7 linked regions of the Homo sapiens genome follow. The protein of the gene in region 1 purifies or fractionates together with the protein of each later gene. This does not show direct contact. Each region holds a gene or a part of one and is shown in the gene's direction. Other genes may lie near its edges. The genes, in order: EEF2KMT, CLTCL1, LPL, RFFL, ECI2, USP15 and GTPBP1.

The links.
Region 2: the proteins of EEF2KMT (region 1) and CLTCL1 purify together in Homo sapiens (affinity purification with mass spectrometry; one large-scale study listed by BioGRID and IntAct). This does not show direct contact.
Region 3: the proteins of EEF2KMT (region 1) and LPL purify together in Homo sapiens (affinity purification with mass spectrometry; one large-scale study listed by BioGRID and IntAct). This does not show direct contact.
Region 4: the proteins of EEF2KMT (region 1) and RFFL purify together in Homo sapiens (co-immunoprecipitation; one large-scale study listed by IntAct). This does not show direct contact.
Region 5: the proteins of EEF2KMT (region 1) and ECI2 purify together in Homo sapiens (affinity purification with mass spectrometry, with the first as the bait; one large-scale study listed by BioGRID). This does not show direct contact.
Region 6: the proteins of EEF2KMT (region 1) and USP15 purify together in Homo sapiens (affinity purification with mass spectrometry, with the first as the bait; one large-scale study listed by BioGRID). This does not show direct contact.
Region 7: the proteins of EEF2KMT (region 1) and GTPBP1 purify together in Homo sapiens (affinity purification with mass spectrometry, with the first as the bait; one large-scale study listed by BioGRID). This does not show direct contact.

Annotation. Positions count from the first base shown.
Region 1 is NC_000016.10:5,091,296-5,095,193, reverse strand, and holds part of EEF2KMT (protein-lysine N-methyltransferase EEF2KMT), read left to right. Parts: intron 1-1,629; coding exon 1,630-1,710; intron 1,711-3,298; coding exon 3,299-3,400; intron 3,401-3,898. UniProt on the Homo sapiens protein: Catalyzes the trimethylation of eukaryotic elongation factor 2 (EEF2) on 'Lys-525'.
Region 2 is NC_000022.11:19,221,968-19,225,865, reverse strand, and holds part of CLTCL1 (clathrin heavy chain 2), read left to right. Parts: intron 1-232; coding exon 233-413; intron 414-1,811; coding exon 1,812-1,975; intron 1,976-3,056; coding exon 3,057-3,182; intron 3,183-3,772; coding exon 3,773-3,898. UniProt on the Homo sapiens protein: Clathrin is the major protein of the polyhedral coat of coated pits and vesicles. Two different adapter protein complexes link the clathrin lattice either to the plasma membrane or to the trans-Golgi network.
Region 3 is NC_000008.11:19,956,124-19,960,021, forward strand, and holds part of LPL (lipoprotein lipase precursor), read left to right. Parts: intron 1-3,136; coding exon 3,137-3,257; intron 3,258-3,898. UniProt on the Homo sapiens protein: Key enzyme in triglyceride metabolism.
Region 4 is NC_000017.11:35,057,051-35,060,948, reverse strand, and holds part of RFFL (E3 ubiquitin-protein ligase rififylin), read left to right. Parts: intron 1-3,898.
Region 5 is NC_000006.12:4,115,139-4,118,906, reverse strand, and holds the end of ECI2 (enoyl-CoA delta isomerase 2), read left to right. Parts: intron 1-1,455; coding exon 1,456-1,599; intron 1,600-2,877; coding exon 2,878-3,033; 3' UTR 3,034-3,201; downstream 3,202-3,768. UniProt on the Homo sapiens protein: Able to isomerize both 3-cis and 3-trans double bonds into the 2-trans form in a range of enoyl-CoA species. Has a preference for 3-trans substrates.
Region 6 is NC_000012.12:62,263,404-62,267,301, forward strand, and holds part of USP15 (ubiquitin carboxyl-terminal hydrolase 15), read left to right. Parts: intron 1-3,898. UniProt on the Homo sapiens protein: Hydrolase that removes conjugated ubiquitin from target proteins and regulates various pathways such as the TGF-beta receptor signaling, NF-kappa-B and RNF41/NRDP1-PRKN pathways.
Region 7 is NC_000022.11:38,704,203-38,708,896, forward strand, and holds the start of GTPBP1 (GTP-binding protein 1), read left to right. Parts: upstream 1-1,741; 5' UTR 1,742-1,753; coding exon 1,754-1,945; intron 1,946-4,642; coding exon 4,643-4,694. UniProt on the Homo sapiens protein: Promotes degradation of target mRNA species. Plays a role in the regulation of circadian mRNA stability. Binds GTP and has GTPase activity.

The DNA of each region.
Region 1 (3,898 bases):
TAAACCATCCACAGCAAAAACAGAGATGACAGGTGCAAAACAGCTTCTAGCATTTGGTTGATGTTCAGAGACTTTCTTTTTTGCTTTCATGAGGCCTGTCCTGCCCACTCCTGTCTCCTCTAGACCTAAATGGGCCCTTGCTTTGCCCAGGGTGGGGTTTGGACTCAAGTGCATCTGCCTGCAGGTGAGAGGCAGGATCACCACCCGGCCCAGCCACAGCCTGACCTTGGCCTTGAGGGCCAAGTGCAGATCACCCTGCATCCTGGGTCTTCACGTTCGAAGGGCCATGAGCCCTTCTGAAAAGACCAAGCAATAGACTCCCTCGCAGAAAGAAGTGCACCAGAAGAATACATTTTCCATACAAACTCAGGAGGCAGATATCCTCCACCCCCACCCACCCAGCCCATCCTAGGAGCCCCGGTGAAGAATTCCTGTGCTAGAGGTGAACCAAGATTATCCATGTGGAAAAGATACAGCCACAGCAGGGAAAACTTTCGGGGCAATACCAGGGCTTCGAGCATGGAGATACCTGAAGTTATCTCGCACCCTGCTCTGAGTTTCACCCTGAGCCTCACTCTCGTAGGTGGTGAAGCATGAAATGTAGGGAGAGCTGCTTTAAAACCCAGCACAAGGCTGGGTGCACTGGCTCACACCTGTAATCCCAGGACTTTGGGAGGCTGAGGTGGACAGATCACCTAAGGTCAGGAGTTCCAGACCAGCCTAGCCAACATGGCAAAAACCCATCTCTACTAAAAATACAAAAATTAGCTGGGCGTGGTGGTACATGCCTATAGTCCCAGCTACTCAGGAGGCTGAGGCAGGAGAATCGCTTGAACCCAGGAGGCAGAGGCTGCAGTGAGCCAAGATCGGGCCACTGCACTCCAGCCTGGGCAACAGGGCGAGACTCTGTGTCAGAATAAATGAAAAACCAGCACCAGCCTGAAGAGCCTGTGTATTGCGTGGGGTACTTTGCTGCCCTTGGGCAGAATCTGCATCCCTCCCAGCCAGCAGGCACTGTGGACCGTCTCCTCCCTCTCCCTCCAGGCTCCTGTTTTCCCGCCGTCCCCACTCCTGCTGCACCAGTCCCTCTGCCCTCCTTTCCAAGTGCCAGGCTGTGGCCACCTCAGAGCTTGCACCAGCTGTTCCCACTGCCTAGAACTTGCTCATCCTGCATTTGGCTTCTCTGGGCTTTAGCTGGAGTGTCACCCGGAGCGTCCCGTCCCCTCCATCCTGTCCCCAGGGACACACACTCCAAGAGAGCAGTTGCCGAGTGGGCCTTCCCGCCTCTTCCATAGAGCCAGACCGTTGGCGACTGTCCTTACTGCAAACCCTGGTTCACACTGGCTCCCCTGGGAGGGAGGCGGTTTGGGCCCACATGCCCTGTGTTCCTGCTCAGAATGGGCGTTAGAAATGCTGCCATAGCCTGTGCCACTGCAGTGGAAGCATTTTTAGGAAACAGCTTATATCTTAAGACAAACTTCAGATGCATGGGGCCAAAACGCTGTGTCCATCTACATCTTTGCTGAGGGATCGGGTAGCCTGGAGTTTGCCCTCTGCTGTGTTGGCTTGAAGCTCATAGGAGACTTAAGACGGGCTCTCGAGCAACCAACGTTCTGTCCTTTGCCGTAGACTGTGAAGCATCCTGTGTGTGTGAAGCACCCGCCGTCCGTCAAATATGCCCGGTGCTTTCTCTCAGAACTCATCAAAAAGGTCAGTTATGGGCAGTGTCCGCCCAGTAGCCGGACAGCATAGCCACCTGCGTGCTGGAGCCCCCGTCCTTCCCAGGCCCTGGGCCTGCTTTGCAAACCCCAGCATGGCAGGGGCCTCCCCAGGCAACTGGCTGCAGCCACATGTGACCCATGGGAGACAGTGCAGGGCGGGAAGAAGGGGAGGCCAGCATCTCTCCCTCACTCTGCCTCCTGGGGTTTCCACGGCAGCTGCTCCTCTGGGGCCCCAGCTCCTAGCATATGGATTCTCATTCCTACCAGGCTGGCCCAGCCCACAGCACTGGAACCCTCACCCGCACCCTCTGTCCTGCCCGCTGAAGGGTTTGGAGTTTCCTGCTCTTGTCCGTCTCTGGGTTGCCCCACAGGCCCCTGTTGGAAGATTTAGCTCTTGCCATACCTTCGGAACTAGTTCCTCTGGTGAATTCTCTGCATTAATCCTGCTGGAATGAGCTCTTTCCTGACTGATAAAGGATGAATTTTATTTTTTACTTATTTATTTATTTTTTTGAGACAGAGTCTCACTGTGTTGCCCAGGCTGGATTACCGTGACACAATCTCGGCTCCCTGAAACCTCTGCCTCCTGGGTTCAAGCAACTGTCATGCCAGCCTCCTAAGAAGCTGGGACTACAGGCACACGCCACCATGCCTGGCTAATTTTTTATTTTTAATAGAGACAGAGTTTCACCATGTTGGCCAGGCTGGTCTCGAACTCCTGACCTCAGGTGATCCGCCTGCCTCGGCCTCCCAAAGTGCTGGGATTACAGGCATGAGCCACCGCACCTGGCCTAGGATGGATTTTAAAGATGCGCCCGAACATGCAGGGTTTGACATGAGGATGTCGAGAGGCCTCCTCAGTAGGCAGTAGCAGACCTGCTGAGTGAAAGAGCCACACTTTTAGCAAATAAACAATCCCCTGCTTCTCCAATACCTGCTTTCTCCCTAGTCCTCCCCAGAAGCATGCATCTGTGGTCACCAGCAGGTCTGCCCTGTGCCACCAGGAGAGGGCAGCAGTCACCCAGTGTACTCTGCTGCTGCCCTGTGAATCATAGGACGGGGCCAGCTGTGGAGAAGCGGCCTGCTGACAGCCACAGCCTGCAGCATGGGCCGCCCTCACACTTCTGCCTGGGCTCACTTAAAAGCACCTTTTGTTTTCCTCCTCTCTGTGTTTGATCCAAACACGGCTCTCTATCATGGTCACCTGGCAACTCTCACGGAATCCTTGTCTCCTGCCCTAGACTACACCTAACCCTACCCTCCCAACACCTCTGGTTCAAGGCCCTCCCATCCAGGTTTCCCTACCAAGTGAATTTTTTTTTTTAGAGACAAGGTCTCTGTTGCCCAGGCTGTCCTCGAACTCCTGGGCTCAAGCAGTCCTCCCATGTCAGCCTCTAGAGTAGCTGGGACTATTCGGCACACACCACCAAGCCCAACGAAGTGAATATTTTATATGGCAGCTGGCCGGTATTATACCATTCCATCGCAAATCTCCCCTCCAAACTTGGTGAAAATCATCTGGCCATTTTTACAGATTAGAACGAAAGCAAACAAGCTCTCACTCTGTCTGCCCCCAGCACGAGGCTGTCCACACAGAGCCTTTGGACGAGCTGTATGAAGCGCTGGCGGAGACCCTGATGGCCAAGGAGTCCACCCAGGGCCACCGGAGCTATTTGCTGGTATGAGAAGGGCACCCTCCTCCCCCTCACAGCCCAGATACCCTTCCTGCACAGACAAAGTGAAAACGTGGGTGTGGGTTCAAATCCTGACTCACCCATTCTACAGTCTTAGACATGAGGTCCGTCAACCTTCTTTAGCCTCAGTTTCCCTGTCTGTAAATCAGGCACTTCAACAACAACAGCATGTCTCGTGGAGTTGTTGGGCACTTATCCAATAGGTGACACACACTACCTGCTTCACAAGGACCTGGTGCCCAGTCCTCAAAGAATACTTGACAGGGCTGGGCGTGGTGGCTCACGCCTGTAATCCCAGCGCTTTGGGAGGCCGAAGTGGTTGCATCTGAGGTCAGGAGTTCGAGACCAACCTGGCCAATATGGTGAAACCCTGTCTCTACTAAAAATACAAAAATCAGGCCGGGCGTGGTGGCTCATGCCTGTAATCCCAGCATTTTGGGAGGCTGAGGCGGGGGGATCACCTGAGGTCAGGAGTTTGAGACC
Region 2 (3,898 bases), on another chromosome or scaffold:
AGCATCATCTGTGGAATATTCCAGGTGAACAGTTTAGATCAGTGTCTTTTCCCAGCTTTACTCCTTGCTCCTACTTTTTCCCGTGATGGATAGTTGCTTTTCAACCCCTTTATGTGGAAATTCTCTGTATTTTTGACACTCAGGGGAACAGGAGAATGACCTAGTTATTTTCCAAGTGTTAGCAATCTTTAGAGTGGTGCATCGTTGTGGACAGACTCTTCCTTGTTCCCAGTGGCTTGTCAATTTCTTTGGCTCCTTATCGGTGGAGGATTCTGTGGAGTGTCTGCATGCCATGCTGTCTGCTAACATCAGACAGAACCTTCAGCTGTGTGTGCAGGTGGCCTCTAAGTACCACGAGCAGCTGGGCACGCAGGCCCTGGTGGAGCTCTTTGAATCCTTCAAGAGTTACAAAGGTAAACCATGCAGCCTCTCGCCGACCCCACCATGTGACTACACCTCCTTTCTCAGGTGTTGCTGCCTACCTGCCCGCCTTAAGACGGCCTTCCTGCAAAGCCAGGCAGGATGCAGCACTGGCTGCCTTGGGTGCTCAGTCGGTGGCAGAATGCTACTGCCATCTCATGTGCACCCTCAGCTTCAGTAACCTTTTTGGTATTTCCAAAGGAAGAAATCAGGTTGGTTGGTGATGGGATGGAGAAACTTATGGAGCCCGGTGTGTCTACGCAGCACAGTCTGGCAAGAATTCATCTAAAAGCCTGTGTCGTGGGTACAGTGAAAGGGCCTGATGTCTGGTCTTTACAGCCCCAGGAGGGAGGCTCTTTGGGCCTCTCCTAAATGAGAGCCCACGATAGAGGGTGCATTGCTTTGTGGTGTCTGCTACCCAGTTGATTGTGGGGGGCTGACAAGGTAACCTGGTTGTCTTCCTTTCCCCTTCTTGGACATCACACCAAAAAAGTGTTCTAGGGCAGTTGGGATGGGAGTGGCTTTGTTAGGGACAGATGGGGGCTGTCTGGCCCACCCAGGATAGAGACTAAGCATTTGTCTAGGCATCAAGCCACTGCCATGTGTCCAGTGAGGTTGGGGCATCGGTGGAGGGTGGGACATGACCCTGTCCTCAGGGAACTGGCCTTCTCTTTAGAAGACACCCCTGTAGGAAAGACCATGGCAGACGATTGAGTGGAGCTGGGCTGGGAGAGGGCAGTAGAGTAGGTTGGTGGAGAACCGTCAGCCCAGGGGCTGCCCATTCCCTTCCTAGCATCAGGGTCTCACAGTTACAGTGAAAGACCTCGACAGGGAGGGGCCTTCTCAGATGTGTCGTACCCTGTTGTTACTGGTGCCTCCTGGCTGGCCTCTGTAATGATGAGGAACATCATTAGCCTCTGTGAATGCTGTCCTCTGGGGCTCACCCTGGGGCTCAGCATGTGGTGCCCATGTCACTGTCAGCTCTGTGTTGAGTTGCAGGCCTCCTCCTGGAGGCCATGGCTTATTTCTCTGTCCCTTGATGTGTCTTTTTAGAGAAGCAGTCCCACCACCATTTCAGATTACCTCAGTGGGAATTACTCTTGATGACGACTATCTAGGTATACCTGGGCCCACAAAAGGAATTTCACTTGTACCAAATATCTAGTATTTTACATCAAAACATGCCAGGTATACCTGCCAAATATAATGGAAATCCGACTAGCTATTTTTGGGAGCTGCCAAAACAGACAAATGGCATATTGATTATGAGTTCTGAGTGTGCTGTGGGTCCCTGGAGAGTGGAGCAGGGTCATCGAGGGAAGGTGGGCAGCAGCTACGGAGGAGACAGGCAGGTGTTACAAGGACAAAAATGGAATGGTCTCTCTTCATAGGCCTCTTCTACTTCCTGGGCTCAATCGTGAACTTCAGCCAAGACCCAGATGTGCATCTGAAATACATTCAGGCTGCCTGTAAGACAGGGCAGATCAAGGAGGTGGAGAGGATATGCCGAGAGAGCAGCTGCTACAACCCAGAGCGTGTGAAGAACTTCCTGAAGGTGTGTTCCAGTGCTGCCTCCTTCCATGAGCTGCCCTTGCTGATGGCAGGTGGGGCAGACCATCCGCAGGACGTCCCAGGGGCAGGAAGCTGGATCTGTCTCGCCAGGGACCCCTTAGTCCCAGGGACAGAGCTCCACTTTATGGCTTAAAGTTCTAAAGTAACCCTTCTATCGTTTTAAGAGTGTGGAAAGCAGCTTGAGGCTGTGCTCTAAGTATCTGGCACTTATTGCTGCATTGTAATTCATCAACATCCCATTAGTGCCATTGTCAATTAGGCAGGCAAAGCTGCAGAAACAAGTAGACCACTCAGCACTAGTGTCATAAAGAACAGGAAGCCTACTTCCTTATGTGGCAGTCCAGGGTAGGCTGGAGGTCAGTGGGGTGACTTTCCTTCCCACTGTACTTCAAGGACCAGCTTCATGGCTGCTTTGCCGTGTTCAGCACCTCACCTGGATGTCGTCTTCCCAGTCAGCTAGAGGAAGGGAAGAGCACAGAGGAACCAGCATAGGTGGTTTTTATGGGCGAGGCCTGCAAGTGGCAGATGACACTTGGATTCACGTTCCATTGGAGGAAATGAGGTCATGTGGCCACACTTAAAACTTCAAAATGTGATCTAGGCACGGGACCACATGAGGGGAGGCATGATTGTGGTGGCCTGTGGCTGTCCTACCCAAGTGCCATCATCATCTGGGAATGGTGGCCGGGTGTGTTTCCATGGCCTGCGGCTGCGTGTCTGAAAAGGCAGCCCTTACCGCAGGTGTGCTGTTCTTGAGAATGGCCTGGTTTCTGTTGGGTTTGCACATAATGAGCTGCTTGTCTTAAAAGATATTTTTGTCCAGATTTGGAATGTTAATGCCAAATGTAGCAGTCTTTAACCAAATACTAATATCTTTCTCTCACTTATTTCCCAAAGCAAATGCCATACCACAAAACGACAGCCTATTTAGAGCAGTCTCATTCTGAGTCTCCTGTGTGTCACTCTGCTGCAGAGACAGAGCCGTCCCATGTGTGCAATGAGTCCGAGGTCTGGCTGTCTGGTTTCTCCACTCCCTGACTTGTTCTGTGCATTCTAATCCTCAGGAGGCCAAGCTCACAGACCAGCTTCCCCTCATCATCGTGTGTGATCGTTTTGGCTTTGTCCATGACCTTGTCCTATATTTATACCGCAACAACCTGCAGAGGTACATTGAGATCTACGTGCAGAAGGTACTGCTGGCTCCCTGGAGTGACACCCGGCTGCCTCTGGGCCCCAGTCAGTGGCAGTCTTCCCCTCAGAGGCTGCCTGTAACACCTGACATTTCAGAGACTATCATTTTGAAGGGTGGTGGGTTCGTGTGCTCAGACTGCCAGAGTAGAAGACCACAGTCCAGGCAGCTGAAACAACACACATTTATTTCTCACAGTTTTGGAAGCTGGAAGTCCATGATCAGGGTGTCGGCAGGGCTGGTTTCTGGTGAAGGCTGTCTCCCACGCTTGCAGACAGCCTCCTGGCTGTGCCCTCACAGGGCCTTTCCTCTGTGCATGTGCACTCCTGGTGTCTCTTCCTCTTCTTAGAAGGACACTAGTCCCATTACATTAGGGCCCCACCCTTGACATTGATTACCTTCTTAAACACCCTCTTTCCAAGTAGAATCCCACTAGGGGTTAGGACATCAGCAGGTGAATTTTGGTGGGACACAGCGCAGTGCTAAACAGGAGCCCTTTCAGGGTTTTGCCCAAACTGTCCACGTCGTAGGAGGCTTCTAACAATAACTTGTGTTTGCAACACTGAAGTTACTTGACCTTGACTACCCTAGGTCAACCCTAGCCGGACCCCAGCTGTGATTGGAGGGCTGCTTGATGTGGATTGTTCTGAGGAAGTGATTAAACACTTAATCATGGCAGTGAGAGGACAGTTCTCTACTGATGAGTTGGTGGCTGAA
Region 3 (3,898 bases), on another chromosome or scaffold:
CTATTTCATCATGCTCACTGCATCACATGTACTGATTCTGTCCATTGGAACAGAGATGATGACTGGTGTTACTAAACCCTGAGCCCTGGTGTTTCTGTTGATAGGGGGTTGCATTGATCCATTTGTCTGAGGCTTCTAATTCCCATTGTCAGCAAGGTCCCAGTGCTCAGTGTGGGATTTGCAGCCTTGCTCGCTGCCCTCCCCTGTAAATGTGGCCATTAGCATGGGCTAGGCTATCAGCACAGAGCTCAGAGCTCATTTGGAACCATCCACCTCGGGTCAACAAACTATAACCCTTGTGCCAAATCCAGCCTACTTCCTGCTTTTGTAAATAGTTTTTTTAAAACTTTTAAGTTCAGGGGTACGTATGTAGGTTTGCTAAAAAGGTAAACTTGTGACATGGGAGTTTGTTGTCCAGAATATTCCATCACCCAGGTATTAAGCTTAGTACCCATTAGTTACTTTTCCTGAAGCTCTCCCTCCTCCCACCCTCTGGGAGGCCCCAGTGTCTGTTGTTCCCCTCTATGTGCTCATGCAAAGTTTTATTAGGACACAGCCACACACATTCATTACCATATTGTCAAAGGCTGGTTTCATGCCACCATAACAGAGTTGATAGCCCACAGAGCCTAAAATATTTACTCCCTGGCCCTTTACAGAATGTTCACAACTTACATAAAGGCAAGGACCATCTGTCTTATTTATTTATTTATTTAATTTGAGATGAAGTCTAGCTTTCTCCTAGGCTGGAGGAGAGGGGCATGATCTTGGCTCACCACAACCTCTGCCTCCCGGGTTCAAATGATTCCCCTGCCTCAGCCTCCGGAGTAGCTGGGATAACAGGCATGCACCATCATGCCCAGCTAATTTTTGTATTTTTAGTAGAGAGGGGGTTTCACCGTGTTGACCAGGCTGGTCTCGAACTGCTGACCTCAGGTGATCTGCCCTCCTTGGCCTCATCTGTCTTTTTAAATGCAACTATTCCTGGAAGGCAAGAATATCTCACACCTTCTAAGATACTGCCATTTTGCCAGGAGTTTGTTTCACACTTGAATTTCAAGCTTGGCCTCTTGTTTAGAGGCAGACCTAAAGGAATGGTCGGAAAATGAGAGAGGAGGTCTTCGGATAAATCCGGTGAGAGGGACCAACTTCAGGAAGGGTGGCTTTTGTGGAATCCAGATGGAAACCTGAGGGAAGGGATGATATTAAAGAACAGTGGCCCCAGGTAAAACATATGGCACCCATGTGTAAGGTGATTCTTAGAATCTGTAGAGGTGTCTTTCGTGGTATAGAGGTTGAGGCACCTGTGCTTCAAGGAAACCTTAACTCTTCAAAATCAGGCAATGCGTATGAGGTAAAGAGAGGACTGTGGGACCATAATCTTGAAGACACAGACAGGCTTCACTCATCCCTGCCTCCTGCACCAGTGGGTTCAAGGCTCTGTCAGTGTCCCCTAGGGGCACCTCACCACTCCCAGCTTCTTCAGCTCTGGCCTGTCCTGCTGCCTGCAAGGGTTTTGCTTAATTCTCAATTCAATGTCTCTTCATCTTTTAGCAGCTGTGGGGTTTTGTTGTTGTTCTTCTGTTTTTGCTTAGTATCTGACTACTTTTTAATTATAAAAAGAGATGTATCTAAACAAAATAGAGATTGTTATCAGAAGTTCACAACATTTATTAAAAATTTTTTCACCTGGACAAGAGTCTAAAGCAGCATAAAAATATGGTCTGCTATATTCTAAACCATCAGTCTTAAGAGATCTGTGTCTCAGCTTAAGAGAAAATACATTTAATAGACAGTAACACAAATAAGAAAAAAATCTGACCAAGGATAGTGGGATATAGAAGAAAAAACATTCCAAGAATTATTTTATTTATTTATTTATTTATTTATTTATTTATTTATTTATTTATTTTTGAGACACAGTCTCGCTCAGTTACCCAGGCTGGAGTGCAGCGGCGCAATCTTAGCTCACTGCAACCTCTGCTTTCCGGTTCAAGCGATTCTCCTGCCTCAGCCTCCTGAGTAACTGGGATTACAGGCACCCGCCACCACGCCCAACTAATTTCTGTATTTTTCTTAGTAGAAACAGGGTTTCACCATGTTGGCCAAGCTAGTCTCAAACTCCTGACCTCAGGTGATTCACCCACCAAGGCCTCCCAAAGTGCTGGGATTACAGGCATGAGCCACCATGCCTGGCCTCCAAGAACTCTTTTTTCCTCCATCATCATGGTTCTATTTTAGTCCTGCTGCCTTTCCTTTTAACCTCTCCCCAGGCCCATTTGCTCAGGGTTTTTGGTAGAGACCAGAGGAGGGGCAGGGAGGAGATATAGAAGTTCAACTACCTGCTTCCAGAGGCTGTCCCTAGTATAGAATACTTTAGGGGCTGGCTTTACAAGGCAGTCCTTGTGGCCTCACTGATGGCTCAATGAAATAAGTTCTTTTTTAAAAAAAATTTTATTTATTTCCATAGGTTATTGGGGGAACAGGTGGTGTTTGGTTACATGAGTAAGTTCTTTAGTAGTGATTTGTGAGATTTTGGTGTGCCCATTACGGAATGGAAAAATCAACGAAATAAGTTCTATGATGCACCTACTAGACACCTAATCTGCGCTAGATGGTGGGGGAATTAAGAGCATGGGCATGATCCTGTGACCGGAAGCCCGCTTACAGTCAGGGTGGAGGACAGACCTACTCATGAAACAAACACAGTGACATATAGTGACACAGAAGCAAATGTCAAATATGCTTGCTCCAGATGCTAAGGCACAAGATGGCCAAGGATGGCGGAGTTCATGGAGAAAGCATCATGAGTGTTTTGGCCTTCTGATTTGATCTCCCTAGCACCCCTCAAAGATGGCTACTTCCTAATGCTGCTTGGCAATTCAGACACATTTGGGTTTTTCCTATGCATATAACCACACTTTTCTGAAAGGGAGTAGAATTCAAGGTCTGCATTTTCTAGGTATGAACACTGTGCATGATGAAGTCTTTCCAAGCCACACCAGTGGTTCCATGTGTGTGCACTTCCGGTTTGAGTGCTAGTGAGATACTTCTGTGGTTCTGAATTGCCTGACTATTTGGGGTTGTGATATTTTCATAAAGATTGATCAACATGTTCGAATTTCCTCCCCAACAGTCTTCCATTACCAAGTAAAGATTCATTTTTCTGGGACTGAGAGTGAAACCCATACCAATCAGGCCTTTGAGATTTCTCTGTATGGCACCGTGGCCGAGAGTGAGAACATCCCATTCACTCTGTGAGTAGCACAGGGGGGCGGTCATCATGGCACCAGTCCCTCTCCTGCCATAACCCTTGGTCTGAGCAGCAGAAGCAGAGAGCGATGCCTAGAAAACAAGTCTTTAGTTAAAAAAATCAGAATTTCAAAATTGAGGTCTTTCCTCTATTTGATATTGAGAAAAAAATGCTTCAAATTGGCCATTTTATTTTCACTTACTAGTTATATTTTTTTATTTATCATCTTATATCTGTTTATTTCTTTTATAAAGCTGCTGTTAAACAATATAATTAAACTATCTCAAAAGGTTTGACATTAAAGAAAATGAGCAATGGTAACAGGAAACCACTCTATAGATGTACATATAATATGTACAGAAAATATAAGTAGTAAGAAGTCCATGACAAAGTGTTAGCTCTTTTTTTTTTTTTTTTTTTTTTTTTTTTTGAGATGGAGTCTCTCTCTATTGCCCAGGCTGGAGTGCAGTGATTCGATCTCAGCTCACTGCAACCTCTACCTCCCGAGTTCAAACAATTCTTCTGTCTCAGCCTCCCGAGTAGCTGGGGCTGCAGGTGCCCACCACCATGCCCAGCTAATTTTTGTATTTTTAGTAGCGACAGGGTCTCACCATGTTGGCCAAGCTGGTCTTGAATTCCTGATCT
Region 4 (3,898 bases), on another chromosome or scaffold:
AGGACACTTAGTTCATATATGCATCTTCTCTGACTTCTCTGTCTTTTCTGACAGACAGCACTGTCTGTCTCTTCCACTAGACTGTTGAGTTCTTTGACTGAACTTGGTGTCCCTGGACTAGAGCTTGGCACCATCAGAGAGAGTGGCTGACGTGGATCTCCGGGCTCAAACCGTTATTCTTTGCAATATTAGAAGCTTTTTTGTTAGATGGCATGGTTTTTCATTCCTATTTGATGAACATGAGCCCATGGCTGCTTATTTTGTATGTGTTACCTGCCACCATCAAGTAATCATTCAAAGTTAATTTGAAGATTTAAAGGGTTTGCTGAGATCTAGTCCCGCAATATCACGACATTTTTATGGTGTTTTACAAAATTATTTCCCTCATATGGTTTTATTTGCGTTGGGTAGGCTTTATTTATTATCCCTATTTTACCAGTGATTATAAAGCTAGTCTGATACCAAAGCATATATACATTTAGGTAAGACTCAGAGAGAAAACATGGTTCTTACACTGCATTAAGCAGCTGGTTTGTCTCTTAATATAGTAGTTAAATATACTCTATCAGGTTCCACAGAAATGGTGCCTTTGCTCGATAGGCAAGTGCTAACGGTCTTGCCTTTTACAAGGCCACTTTATCATCAAGGTAGGAGGAGGAGGTACTCTGAACCTGCCTGACCTATGGGAAGGCCCTGGTTGTGGTTAGAGACCTTGATTGAAATTAATGGTGTGCGTACTCCAACCTCTCAGGTTTTTCTTTTATACTTCAAATATCTGGAAGTTGTGAAAACCTGCTGCCCTGGTGGAGTATCAAACCAGGCTGGTGAGTGAAAGCGGTCATCCCAAAATGGAGTAAGCTGAGTGTTAAGGGCAGAAAACCTTTTACAGTTATAGTAAGTAATTAACTTTTTAGATCACTTCACAACTTTTGGAGTGCTAAAATGCCATATTTGGGACTATGAGAAATTCCATTATAAAAAGCTGAACCATTAGAGCTAGGAAATAATCTCTGTTAGATATTGGCATATGGTGTTCAATTTTGGGTCTCTCATACTTGAGAGGATAATTAAAATGATTAAAAGGTTGAAAAACAGGTCTTATCATTATAAGTTTTAAAAAGGGGGGAAAGATTTTAGCCTAGAGAAAGAAAAGCTAAGAGATAACTTCATTATCATCTTCAAATACAAGAATAGTTTTGCCAGGGGGATTTTTATTAATTATTCTTCATGAACTTCAAAGATTTAAGAGGAAATGGTCTTAAATTGAAGGAGGAGCAATTTTGATGAATACGAGAAAGAATTTTTTGATCATCAAAGTGGGGAAATGTTTGAATGACTGCCCAAGAGAGTGTTGAATTTCTGACTGTTTCAGTTGTCTATTGTGTGACAAATTACCCGAAGACTTTTGGTGGCATAACATGACAACCATTTTATTGCCTATGATTTTGTGGGTTAGTAATTCAGGAAAGGAGGACATATTTTTTTTTGTCCCATATGATGCTGATTGAGCTGGAGGATCCAAGAAGGCTGCACATGTCTGTACCTTTGGAGCTAGCTGTTGGCTGGGATATCTTGGTTCTCTGTGAGTTCTCTTTCTTGGTCTCTCATCACTTATAAACCTATATCGAGTGGCCGAGCGCAGTGGCTCATGCCTGTAATCTCAGCACTTTGGGAGGCCGAGGTGAGTGGATCACCTGAGGTCGGGAGTTCCAGACCAGCCTGACCAACATGGTGAAACCCCGTCTCTACTAAAAATACAAAAATTAGCTGGGTATGGTGGTGGGCACCTGTAATCCCACCTACTTGGGAGGCCGAGGCAGGAGAATTGCTTGAACATGGGAGGCGGAGGTTGCAGTGAGCCAAGATTGTGCCATTGCACTCCAACCTGGGTGACAGAGCGAGACCGTCTCAAAAAAAAAAAAAAAAAAAAATTCTAGCTCGAGCTTCTTTTACATGGTGGCTGGGCCATAATGGAAGCTGCAGGATCTCATAAGACCTAGGCCTGGCAGTCATACATCATCACTTTTGCCCCATTCTTTTTGTCAGAGTAAGTCACAATTATAGCCCAGATACAAGAGGAGGGGACATTGACTTCACCTCTAAAGGATAGAGGGTAAAAATCACATTGCAAAAGGGCATGCAATGTGATTGGGATTATTACTACCAACTTTATTTTTTGAAACAGAGTCTCGCTCTGTCACCCAGGCTGGAGTGCAGTGGCGCAATCTCGGCTCACTGCAACCTTTGCCTCCCGGGTTCAAGTGATTCTCTTGCCTCAGCCTCCTGAGTAGCTGGGATTACAGTTGCTTGCCACCACGCCTGGCTAATTTTTGTATTTTTAGTAGATACGGGGTTTCACCATGTTGGTCAGGCTGGTCTTGAACTCCTGACCTTATGATCTGCCCGCCTTGGCCTCCCAAAGTGCTGGGATTACAGGCGTGAGCCACCGCACCTGGCCTACCACCAATTTTAGATACAATTTACCACACTGACCTTAGAGATTTTTCATGAAAGAATAATCAATATATGTTTATTAAATGGGTAGTTTGGGCATATGATTTACAAATTTGGCTGCATATAGAGTCATCTGGGAGCTTTTTACAAGCATAAGCTCCTAGGTACCAGACCAGTGACTCAGTGTCTCCTGGGGGTGTTGTGTTGGCACATAAGAGACACTCTATGTCCTTTCTTTCAGGTAACTATCAGTAAAATGAGTATGGTGGGGGGGGATAGATAGATATAATATGTAAGGCAAGATGATATGTACATTGAGATAGATCTCATCTCTCCTGCTTCTAGGACTTGATTGAATCCTATCTAGCATGCTCTTCTTTCCAGTCTGCCTAGTGTAAATTATATTTCATTAAATCAGCCCATCATCAGAACAGTGTTTCTTGATGCCTCTCATTTTTTTCTCATGTTTTCTGGCATTTTTCCTTCATTACTTTTTTTTTAGTTCATAATTCAATATTTATATGATTGTTTGATGTATAATAGACAAAAATACATCTGCTTTGCTTTCGAGTATCTAACATAGTGTCTGCCTCATAAAAGGCACTCAGTAAGTACTTGTTGAATGAATAAGTGGTTGATTGAATGCATGATTGAATGAAGTGATATTTGAATTTAGCTTTAAAGGTGATTGGAATTTTGGACAGGTAGAGCAAATGAATGGGAAATTTATTGTTCTGAAGTGGAAACTGGATCATATTGCTCATGTAATTTCAGAAAACTGGAGAAACTGGTTTGGGAAAATGGAAGAGTTGGTTTTATATCTAGTATGCTAAGTTTGAGGTATGGAAATTTAGCAGGCATTTAGAAATGAAGCACTGATCTGAAGGGTGAGATTGATTCCAGATATTCACTTTTGGGAGTTACCTGACTGGAGAATGTGAAATCTGTTCCTTTCACAAATACCTGGTAAGCTCCTACTGTGTGCCAGACAGCTATGTTATAGGGAAGGTGAACTGCAGTCTGAGAAGGAGCCAGTCTTGTGAAAAGAGCTAGGGAGAATGTTTCAGCCAGAAAAGGAACCCAAGTTTGTAGGCCCTGGGGCAATAAATAATTTATAATTTTTGAGGAATTGAAGGAAGGTGACCGAAGGACAGAGCAAGGTGAGTGAAGTGGGAGAGCTGCATGAGGTAAAGTGGAAAAGGCAAGCAGAGCCCACATCACATGGGGACTTTGTGGGCTAGATAGTGAGTCTAGCCTTCACTCAAAAGTGTGGTGGGGCTGGGCATGGTGGCTCACACCTGTAATCCTAGCACTTTGGGAGGCTGAGGCAGGTGGATCACCTGAGGTCAGGAGTTTGAGACCAGCCTGGTCAACGTGGTGAAACCCCATCTCTACTAAAAATATAAAAAATTTTAGCCAGGCATGGTGGCTTATGCCTGTAATC
Region 5 (3,768 bases), on another chromosome or scaffold:
ACCTCAGCCTTGCAGCTGTGTGGCATTAGTCACTTGAAGGACCAGGGCTGTGCCAGCCTCCCTTGGTCCCCTGAGTTTGGAGGCCACTCGGTTCCTTTATGGATGACCAGTATCTCCTAAGGAGAGACATGATGACGTCTTCACTTTCAGAGTTACAGTAAGTACCAACAGATGGGAGGTTTTGTGGGGGCTCACGGCTGCCAGAGCCACCCCCAATCACAGCAGCCCTTCCATCAGCCTGCTCACGGGTGTATTCTCTCCCAGGCTGGTTAAGTGGCTGCTCAGGTCTTTCACTGTGTTTCCTAGTTGCCCACGCCCTGTGGCATGACTCGAAGGGGATTGTGACAAGACCAGAAGCTGAGCTATAGGAAAAGGCTTAGCAAATATTGCTGCAAGATCTCAAAGTGGGGCAGTGGGAATTGAGCTTGTTTTCATTGCCTATTAGGATTTTGTTAAAAACTTATATATGTATGTTTTTACTCTCATTAGGCTATCACATACCCTGAATTGAACTTGGGAAGGGGGCAGAACTGACTCTACAAGTCTTAGAGCATTTGGCTATTAGAGCATTCCTTGGCTGGGTGCAGTGGCTCACACCTGTAATCCCAGCACTTTGGGAGGCCAAGGCTGGTGGATCACTTGAGATCAGGAGTTCAAGACCAGCCGGGCCAACATAGTGAAATGCTGTCTCTACTAAAAATACAAAAATTAGCCGGGGCATGGTGGCGGGCACCTGTAATCCCAGCTACTCAAGAGGCTGAGGCAGGAGAATCATTTGAACCCAGGAGGTGGAGGTTACAGTGAGCCAAGATCGTGCCTCTGCACTCCAGCCTGGGCAGCACAGTGAGACTCTGTCTCAAAAAAAAGAAGAGCATTCCTTTTCTGGAAAAGAAATTGCAAATGGAGAGAGGATATCCACTTAATGTCCTCAGTTTTTTCGGAAGCTAACTATAAGTCTTTGCTTTCCTTTAGTCAAATAGAACTAATTTGAGTACCAATGCAGGTAAAGAAAACTCTCAGAGCCAGATCACTGGGTAGTTTCCAGAGAATGGAATTTTGAAAGTTTCTAAAGGTTGACCCAATGACCGTAATTTTTCTCTCCTTTTTTCCTCTGTAAAATAATAGTTTATAGTGTATCAAATGGAAAATCATAGCTGCTGTGGGTTATAGAATCAAGCATCTGCTTCAGATCATTTCTGCCCTGGACCCCCTGATCTTGCCCCTCCAACAACGATACACAGAAGCAGCAGCCCTTATAGACCTTCCCAGGAGCCTGTCTCAGCACACAGTTTGCAAACCGTTGCCTATTGAGGTCATCAGCTTCTCCCTTACTGAGAAATACCAGCAACCTCAAAAGACCATGAGTACATCTCTCTAAGCCTCCTGAAAGCAGTTAACTGAAGCCTTGTTTTATTAAGTTAGTATCTTAACCTTGCTTCTTGCTTTTCATTTCAGGCAACAGAGATGCTTATTTTTGGAAAGAAGTTAACAGCGGGAGAGGCATGTGCTCAAGGACTTGTTACTGAAGTTTTCCCTGATAGCACTTTTCAGAAAGAAGTCTGGACCAGGCTGAAGGCATTTGCAAAGCTTCCCCCAAATGTTAGTATTCATCTTTTACTTCTAAGAACCTTGAAAATGATTTCCTAAGGGAAAAATTTATTTGCCTTCAGAGAATAAGTCATAAAAAGCACAAGACACATCTTTAGTTACCTCTAAGCACATCTAAATTTGGAATTAAAAAATAACTGTAGTAATGTTGGAAATGCAGTACTGATTTTTACAAAACTTATCAAATAGACCTTCCATTTCTGTGTGGGGACAGAGGGCAATTCTGTATGGGGATTACTTGAGCAGGATGCTAGGCAGTATTTGCTGAGCACTTTTACTTTGGAATCCAGGTGAGAAGCATGGATTAGCTACTTTGAGAGTCTTATTGTATAGCACTTTTGTTTTTGTATGTGGTAGTGAGTGACTGATTGCTTTTATATTCTTGCTATTCAAAATGTAGTCCTGGAGCCAGAAGCTTGAGCAGCTACCTGAGGCTTTTTGGAAATGTATTATCACAGGCCTGCCCCACACCTACTGAAGCGATTTATATGCACACTGAATTTTGAGAAGCACTGTCTTATATTACACATGCAGCTTAAGATTTAACAGCATTAGGGCCGAGAACAGTGGCTCACACCTGTAGTCTCAGTACTTTGGGAGGCCAAGAAGGGCAGATCACCTGAGGTCAGGAGTTCAAGAACAGCCTGGCCAACATGGCAAAACCACATCTCTATTTAAAAAATACAAAAATTAGCCAGGCGTGGTGGTGGGCGCCTGTAATCCCAGCTACTCTGGATGCTGAGGCAGGGAGAATTGCTTGAACCCGGGAGGCAGAGGTTGCAATGAGCCAAGATTGCACCACTGCACTCCAGCCTGGGCGACAGAGTGAGACTATGTCTCAGAAAAAAAAAAAAGATTTAACAGGATTTATTAAATGAACATGGGAGAAACAAGAACCAGAATCATAGAATAATCTCACTCCTATTAGATTAACTCTTTTTTTCTTTTTGAGACAGAGTCTCACTTGTCACCCAGGCTGGAGTGCAATGGTGCGATCTCAGCTCACTGCAACCTCCGCCTCCCGGGTTCAAGCAATTCTCTTGACTCAGCCTCCTGAGTAGCTGGGATCACAGGCATGTACCACCACAACCAGCTAATTTTTGTATTTTTAGTAGAGATGGGGTTTCACCATGTTGGCCAGGCTGGTCTTGAACTCCTGACCTCAACTGATCTGCCCGCCTCGGCCTCCCCAAGTGCTGGGATTACAGGCATGAGTCCACGTCCAGCCTAGGTCAACTCTTAACCTTATTGTTGGTTTTGTTTTTCCAGGCCTTGAGAATTTCAAAAGAGGTAATCAGGAAAAGAGAGAGAGAAAAACTACACGCTGTTAATGCTGAAGAATGCAATGTCCTTCAGGGAAGATGGCTATCAGATGAATGCACAAATGCTGTGGTGAACTTCTTATCCAGAAAATCAAAACTGTGATGACCACTACAGCAGAGTAAAGCATGTCCAAGGAAGGATGTGCTGTTACCTCTGATTTCCAGTACTGGAACTAAATAAGCTTCATTGTGCCTTTTGTAGTGCTAGAATATCAATTACAATGATGATATTTCACTACAGCTCTGATGAATAAAAAGTTTTGTAAAACAAGCTTAAGAATTCACACAGGTGTTTGGTAGTAGAGAGTCTTACGTCTTTTGACATGAATCGTTGTTGCCAGGAACACTGGAACATGGTGCCTGGGGTCCTACTTTGAAAAGCACTCACAGCATTACAGGCTGAAGTCATGTCTTTGAATGCCACTATAGCACTTTGACGTCCACAAACAGTGGCTGACTGAATTGGGCCAAATGCTGACAGCCTACAGATCACTGACTTGAGGTCTTCAGTGGGTTGCATGTTCTTTTTCAGCCATGTAGCAAGGGAGCAAAATGGAAGGAATAGTATTACTAGAAAACAAATAAGAATCAAGAATAAGAATAAGAACCCAAATAAGAATCTTAGTTGGGTTTTTTTGCACAATTTAATAAAGAGGCATGAAGGGAAAACTGGGTCATTTCATTGGAAAGCAATGCTCTGTATGAGTAATTGTTTTCTTATTTGTTAGAGTCCCATTCTTGTTTAATGTGGTACTTTATGAAAGGCATCCCTGCAAGCTGCCTTGATTGTCCTTGTAACACCCTGTTTTGATTTCATAGCTATCACTTGACAAGGACT
Region 6 (3,898 bases), on another chromosome or scaffold:
TGCAGATAATGACTGTCTCATGGTAACTCGGGTAACTAACTTCCATACCTAGGCAAGTATAAAGATTTATTTCATTCTGTGTAAGTACTACAGTTTCTCTTTATTTGTAAGCAGTGAATGATTTTTATCTAAAAACTGATTTTCTAGAGATGAAAATAAGTTACACAAGTGTGAGATGAAGAGAAACATACTTTATGATGTATTTAGTTCTAGACTTTATATTGAGAAGTAAATCAAAATTAATACGAGAGTAATACCTTTTTAAAAAGCAAGAAGAAGGTAGCACTGATTTGTATAAGGAATAAAGCAGTCTCAAAATGATATTTGTTGATCTGTGTTTCAATTTCAACAAGAGATCAGAAAAACACGAACAAAATTTAGAGTTTAGGAACTATAGGAAAGAGATAAATGAACTAGAATTGTATCGCTTAGGATGAATTAAAAACAATTTTCAGATACATGGTGGTTTCTTCTGATGAGACAAAAAGATAATTTGCTTAAGGTACATATGAGTATTTTAGGAACATATTTAAGGAATGGTAGTTAATGAGTTACAAAGAAAATTATGGGTTATAAAATACTCTCTTTGGAAAAAAAGTTTTTGAAACAGAGTCTCGCTGTGTCGCCCAGGCTAGAGTACAGTGCGTGGTCTCGGCTCACCGCAACCACCTCCAGGGTTCAAGTGATCCTCCCACCTCAGCCTCCGCAGTAGCTGGGCCTGCAGGCACATGCCACCACGCCCAGCTAATTTTTTATTTTTAGTAGAGACAGGGTTTCCCCATGTTACCCGGGTTGGTCTCGAACTCCTGGCCTCAAGTGATCTGCCTACCTTGGCCTCCCAGAGGGCCGGGATTACAGGTGTGAACCACCTGCAAAATTTCTGGCCTGGAAATTTTTAAAGAAATGGGCCTATTATGAGTAAGTAAAACATAACCACAAATCATCCAAAGCACTGCTTCGTTTCCACCATTTTTATTAAATGTTATTCATCTGCCAATCATTTTCAGTAATTTTTATGTGTGATTATGTTAAGTGGTAATGTGTAGTTAACTTTTGCAGTTTAGCAAAACATTGCATGCCATTTTTGTATAAACCCTAATAACTGTAGTAGGTAACTTTACAGAGTAAGTAATTTGTGTGTGAAGTCATTTAAAATCTCTGTGACATTTTCATTTCAATAATTGCCAAAGAATCTGATCAGTGAAGTTTTAGACAAGAGACATTGATTTCAGTTTTTAGAGCTTTCTGTCCATTCCGACTTTTACTTAGAAATCTTTGAGGCTTAATTTTATTTGATCCCTTATGTTCGTGCAACTTTGAAACTAAAAGAAAATAACCTTATACTCACAAATCCCTTAATAATGAAAAGGAACACTATTACTCAACATGAATTTCAAAATATTTAGTGTATACTTAAAGAAATTTTTATATTACTATTACTTTTAAAATTAGTTTCAGTAGTGCCAGGGTGTTTACGACCAGAGTAGGGTATATACTACATCATTTATAGGAAATGAAACTAAAAGGAAAAACTTCTTCAGTCTTGGTAAATTGGTGAAAACAAGGACAGAGATAGTGACCTTAAGGCATGTTTCACATCTTAGATGCTTAAAAATCTAGGAAAGCAACTTTTCTTAATTTAAGCCTTTTTCGTAAGTTTTTAAATGACTTCTGTTAGTGAGTCCAGGGTTAATGTACCCTAATAGTCCAGGAAGGTCCAGAGCTAGTCAATGATTTCGTTTATCTGTTTTGTGAAATTAAGGCTTTTTTTCCTAAATTATACCATTTTCCTGTTAGCACATATAAGGCATTAAATGACCTTTTTGCAAAATGGTTTTGTGACAGTTAACAATTTTGCTTCTACGTAAGTGTAACAAGATAAAATCAGTTTGTCAGGCCATGACCTGTAATATTACATTTAAAAACACTATGTGCCAGGTACTGTTATAAATGCATATTGACTTATTTACTCATCACCATATTACCACAATTCTGGGAATCGGTGTTATTCACATTTGACAAAATAGGAATCATAGGCTCAAAAAGGTTTTCACATAGTGGTATAGCTGGGATTTGAACCCAAGTAGTTTAGGTCTTTGGTTTGTGCCCTTAAAGCACTGTACCACATTGCCTCTGATTTTATTTAAAAAAATTTTTTCTAGAGACAGAGTCTCGCTTCATCACCCAGGCTGGAGTGTAGTGGCATAGTCATAGCTCACTGTAGCTTCAAACTCCTTGGCTCAAGCAATTTTCCTGCCTCAGCCTCTGAAATAGCTGGAACTACAGGTGTGCGCCACCACACCCAGCTAATTTTTAAAGTTTTTGTGGAGACGGGATCTTACTGTGTTGCCTAGACTGGTTTGAAACTCCTGACCTCAAATGATCCTCTGACTTCAGCCTCGCAAGTATTAATAGCTGGGATTACAGGTGTGAACCCCTATGCCCAGCCTCTGTCTCTTATTTTAAAGATTCATTTTTTAAAAAGTAGATTCACTTTAAAAAGAAAAGAACCTATTTTTCTTTTTAAAGGAAGTCTATTTTATATTTAGTAGCAGAATTCTACCATTTGCCTCTTGTGACTGTTCAGTTTAGATATGATAGAACATGTAGGAAATCTTAACACCTTGCTTCTGGATATTAAAACATGCTTAAAGATTGATAGGTGAATAATTGAATGTACAGAGCAAATGTCATTTTGATCCACAAGTACATTCAGACAAAAAAATTTGAGGTCATTTACTATTGAGCTTTTGAATTTTAATTGTCTATCAATAATCATAAGCTCTTATTAGAGATGATATGGCCCCTTCACATATAGTTTTACAGAAATAACCCATGAAGCATATAGTAAGATCTTGTAGGCTATTTTGTTTCGGTACTTGGTCCATATTTTAAAAGTATGGTATTGGTTTACTATAAGCCACAAATACATACGGCTTTCTTCTTGGACTTAAATCCATATGAACCACTCAGCACAGAAAATGCAAATATGAATGCATTATTATGTTCACCAACTGATTTTTTCCCTAGAGATAACTCTTAAAGAATTTTTGAAGTGAAAGAACATTTAAATTAAGATAGTGGAAGATACAATGATAATAAAACAGTCAATTTTGCTATCTTAGTCTTGAATTTATCTTATGATGTGAGTTTAGAGTGATTCTTCTTTTTTTCACTGAAAATCACTTCATTAATAAGTCATGATTATTGACAAAAGTAAATTGAAACCATTGGGCATATTGGTAGGGAAATAAGGGGAAGATAGAGAACAACTGATAAAGGTTGATTATGTGCATTACGAGATTTGATCCTCAAAAGAAGGACCAAAATATATATATTTATATGACTTATAGATGAGGAATCTGAGAGAAATTAATTTGCTTGCTCATAGTTTACTACCAGCGGACATTTATTAAATGCTTAGTCTGTCGCAGCCACTATTTTAAATGCTTTACACTTACATAGCCTTTAAAGTACATGCTCTTATTACACTTCATTTTATCTTTGATGATTTCAGAGCTGGTTTAAATACCTGGTTTATAAAGATTTAAAGTACTAGATACTATCTAATACTAAGAATAGATCCTTAGTATTAAAAATGGTTTTATGCTGTCACTACTCGAATGTAATTCAAACAATATTTCATTAAACCATGGGAATTTCTCTTTTTTCTTAGTCCTTGTATAGAATTTTTCAACAATTACTAAATACTTTTTTTCTTCCCTGAGTAATGTCAGTCTAGCTTGTTTCTTTTAATTTCCTCACTTACCACTGTAATTCACATTCTGTGTCTCATATTCATTCCTCTGAAGCCACTTCGCCAGACTCGTTCTCCCATTTATCCTTTAAACAGGGGAATGTAGATCCTTTAGATTTTATCACCCAGTTTACACAAAAG
Region 7 (4,694 bases), on another chromosome or scaffold:
GGCTCAGTCCCACAAAACTGTGCCCCTCCTTTAGAAGCCAGTTATGAGTTCAGGCCTCCAGTACTTCGTTGTTTTTTTTTTTTGTTTTTTTGTTTTTTTGTTTTTTTGTGAGTGGGAGTCTCGCTCTGTTGCCCAAGCTTGAGTGCAGTGGTGTGATCTTGGCTCACTGCAACCTCCGCCCCCCCCCCCCCCCCCCGGGTTCAAGGGCTTCTCCTGCCTCAGCCTCCAGAGTAGCTGGGATTACAGGCACATGCCACCACGCCCAGCTAATTTTTGGTAGAGACAGCGTTTCACCATGTTGGCCAGGCTGGTCTCAAACTACTAACCTCAGGTGATCTACCCGTCTCAGCCTCCCAAAGTGCTGGGATTACAAGTGTGAGCCATTGCTCCCGGCCCATATAGGATGGAGGTGAGCAATTTGGCAAGGAAGAAATTAAAAAGCACATAAGAACAGTATCAAGACCATTGGAATCAGATGACTTCCTGTCCAAGATTCCCAGCTGTGTTTGTGCAAATAAGACTTGATAGTAGTGGAAAACAGGGACAAGAAGAGACTGTCTCTTTCTTCTCAGGTAGATCCCCAAAACTGAAAGCCATTTTCAATCCTGCCACTTGCTCACTAAAGATTTAGGGTTTAGGTCCAAACCCTAAGTCTTGGATTCCTTATCTTCTCAAACATGCTCTTGTTTGCTTGATGCCTGGTTCGAGTGGCCAAGGCCGACATTCATAGACGTTGGTTAATCCCTAATTTCGCCAAACAATGACGGCCTAGGCTTTTCCGGCTTTTGAAACAGGAATTCAAGACACTAAAACGTGTGTTGATGGCATTTTGGGTTGGGGCTTTTCACAACTGATGACACTGGAAAAATAATCCATAGGAAACTACCTTATGAGACCCTAGATTTCGGTTTAGCAGTTCACCACAAAAGTGGTGAGGTGTTTTTTGGCTTTTAATTTTAGCTGCTTGCCTCTGTTTTTAGTTCGTGTGATTGCCTCCGCAAAGGCAGTGAATGGAGAATTCTCCCTAAGGTCAGCATTTAATTATTGCCTCACTCTGGCTGCTATAGTATTACAACTCTTGGAACTTACAGCATCGATCCTACTATTAAAGTTGCCTGGAGCATGCCAGCACGTTGGACATCGGCGTTCCAGCAACTGCCTCAGTCACTGAATCGAGTGGGAGGCTCATTTTGCAGTTTACTATCTCCATGAGCAGGTCCAGGCGCGGGACCTGTTCTATGACTCGATTGGGTCCTGCCCTTGTCCGTCATCGGAAGGCTTACAGCGCCTACTGTTTTGCAGTAAGATTTGCAGGCTTAGTACCGCCTCTGGAAACAAGGAGAGTGAAGGGGCGTTGACGAGTAACGTTGTTTGTATTTCTCTCCTCATTGGATGGCTGCTGTGTCAGTCAGACACTTCTCTGCTTCCGTTGGCGGGAAGGCTTCAGGCGGGTAGCGGGGACTCGGTACTGCCCCCTCCCAAGCTGGGAGCAGGGCGCGTGACGTCTCAGACATTTGTTGTTGGGATTTGGGCCTCATTAATTATTCATTAGGTACTTGAAAGCTCTGCAGGGATTGGTGGCTGAGAGGCCTAGTCGACTGTTTCTTAGCTAGAGGTACGTGTCACCCAGTACGCGGCTGGAGTTTTGCATAAATTATTCCGATAAGGAGCGGGGCGGGGCTCTGTGCATAGATTAGTCAAATGAGCCTGGGAGGGAGGGAAGCCGGCTACGAATTAGCCTAAGTTATTAAAGATGGCGACGGAGCGCAGTCGCTCCGCGATGGACTCGCCGGTCCCGGCCTCTATGTTCGCCCCCGAGCCCAGCTCCCCGGGGGCGGCCAGGGCCGCGGCGGCCGCCGCCCGACTCCACGGCGGCTTTGACTCGGACTGCAGCGAGGACGGCGAGGCGCTCAACGGCGAGCCAGAGCTGGACCTCACCAGCAAGGTAGGCCCGGGCGGCGGCGGCGGGCGCTGAGGGGAGCGGGCGGCTGGCCGAGCAGTCTCCCGGGCGACGGCGGGGCCAGCGGCCGCCCTGTCCGCGGGGAGCGCGGAACGGGAAGAAGGGGCCGAGCCCGCCCACCTGCTAGTCTCCGGGACGTGCGGGGGTTCGCGGCGCGAGGGGCCGTCCCCATGGTCCCCGCACCCACCTTGGCTCCCCCGCGTCGCCAACCCAGCCTCCCGCCCTCCCGTCTCCCGCCGAGATCGTAACCCCTCGGCTCTGCCACGTGGAACGGGGGCGCCCGATGCCAGCTGCGCTCCGCGCGTTCCCTGTCCCCGCTCAGTGCCCCTCCCCGTTCTTCGGGTCCCCACTTGAGGGGATTCGGAGACCGAGAGTCTCCTCTCCCTGGACCGCGCGGGACAGCAGAGGGGCGAGGGGGCCCGGGCAGGGGGCCGAGACGCTCATGAAGACAGGTAGTCGGAGGCCAGGGCAGGGTGGCCGCCGCGTCTCTTCCCAGACTCGGGAAAGGAAACAGAAAGTAGTCGCTCAGCTGGGGAGGAGCATGTCCGAGAATGTCTACTTTTCGAGGCCACCCGAAACAAAATGGAAAGATGGTCAGGCTCCTTAGTCTCGCTATCCTGTGAGTGGAAGCTCATCTTGTATGAGTGGAGCAGTGAAGGACGTTTAAAACCGTGTTTTTTGAGCTGTCGAGAAGGTAGGCAGGAATTAAGGCCTCGCCAACGGCTTGACATTGTGAAGAATAGAAAAGTAAATACAAGATGTGACTGGTGTTTTGAAGGTGCTTAACGTTCCTTAGGGAAAGAATGCCAACTTGGGAGTCAGACAGGGCTGGGTTCCCTTTCCTGCCCTACCATCGAAAGGCTCTGTGACGTTGGGAAAGTTTCTTAACCTTTCAGTTCTCCAACCACCTCATCTTAAGAAAGTACAGATGGGTTGTAAAAATTAGAAATATTTAAGAAGACACCTAATAGTGCCTGATGCATACTAGAGACTCAGTAAATGTTTGAAGTGAACGAGATAGTTCCTAATTTCCTGTGCAGATTAAATAGCAGTGGGTGAAAGATAGAACACCAATACCACCACTTACATTTGTAGGATAGTTACGATAGACATTTTATCCAGCTTTGAAAATGTTTGTGACTTTTTATAGTTTATGGCGGCAAATTTGCATGAAACTTGGTCCTAAACTGGGGAGGAACTTTCCCTGCAACCTAAGCAAGTTATTTTCAACTGCTCTTTGCCATTGTAGTCTCAGGTGAGCACTTGGAAGCCAGCTAGCCTGTCAAAGTTGGTCCTGTCTTGTGCCTGTAAGGCCATAATGAGGATGGCCAAACTTAGAGAGAGGGATGGCCAGGACGATGTAAAAGACCCAGGAAACATCCAGGTTACAATTACAAGCTCTGATGAGTCAACTCAGGAAGTTACAAGATTATGGACCTGACTCAAGAGCAAACAAACTGGATGTCAACACATGGTCAAGGTGCTGAAGAAACATGATAGGAAATTGCAGGGCAGAGTTGCAAAGACGGTAGTACCTTCATTTCTTGACCAGCTCATTTAATATTCCTAGAAGTGTTATTTCATCACATAGCTGGGGAAGTCCTCCTTACAATTAAAAAAAATCATATGTATATTAATATCGATGATATCAAAAAGAAAAAGTGATGGTGTGGAGGGAGAGAAGGGTTGGGTTGAATAGATTGATTCCGGAGGAACAGATTAGAAGCGAAAGGTTCATGTCCTTACGATAGAAAATGTGGAGACCTAAGGCTCCGAGAGCTTCCAAAGGGAGAAACACTTAGTGAATAGTGGTGGCTAGTTTCATCCAACAAGGTTTTTCTGGGAATGATTGGGTGAAGAAAACCTTGTAGTTTCACATTTATTGAGCTGTGGACTAGATGCTTTACATGTTATTATATTTGCTCTTTACAGTGGCCTTAGGATGCAGGTAGTATTAGCTCCGTTTTATAGATTGAAAAACTGAAACTCAGAGTGGTTAAATTCTTTGTCCAAGGTCACACAGGAGTGGTTAGAGAATGGGGTCTGATTGCCAAATGGCTTACCCAAGTAAATGGTTGACACTTCAATGTTATTGGCAGACATTTGCAAAATGACGGTGCTAATACTCCTCGTAGTGGTAATGGTGATGGTGCTTTGTTGATGAAGATGAGTCTTGCAGGCAGTTTTCATTCCCAAATATTCAATATAGCTAAGACAAGATAGAACAGAATTCTTTTGTTATCCTGGAAGCCACTGGCCTGTGGGTGGAGGGCATGGAGGTATATGAGGTATATGTCTTGTGGGCTTCCAGATGCCAACTGCAGGTAGAAGACTTTGGCATGTAGATGGAAAGCACTGCGCTTTCTATCCACAGTGCCATATTCTCAGTCACTTGGGTCCTGCCCTTCCTGTTAAGCAGCAGGAGGCAGGCTGCTTGTGCCCTCTTTACCATGGGTTATGGCTCAGACATACACATTGTAGTATATTATTTGGCTCATATAAGGCCTGAGGCTCAAAGGCTACTTCAGGAGAAGCAGAGAGGGCATGAAGGGGCTGTGCAGCCTTTTTAGATGAGGGTGCTATGGGGTTCAGTCAGGATCTTTGGTTAGGCTATATTGATCAGCTTTGGCTGTGGTGCTCTTCTAGCAAGTGTGGTCCTAAGGCTGTTGGTTTCTTTTCTAGCTGGTTCTAGTGAGCCCTACATCAGAGCAGTATGACAGCCTACTTCGGCAGA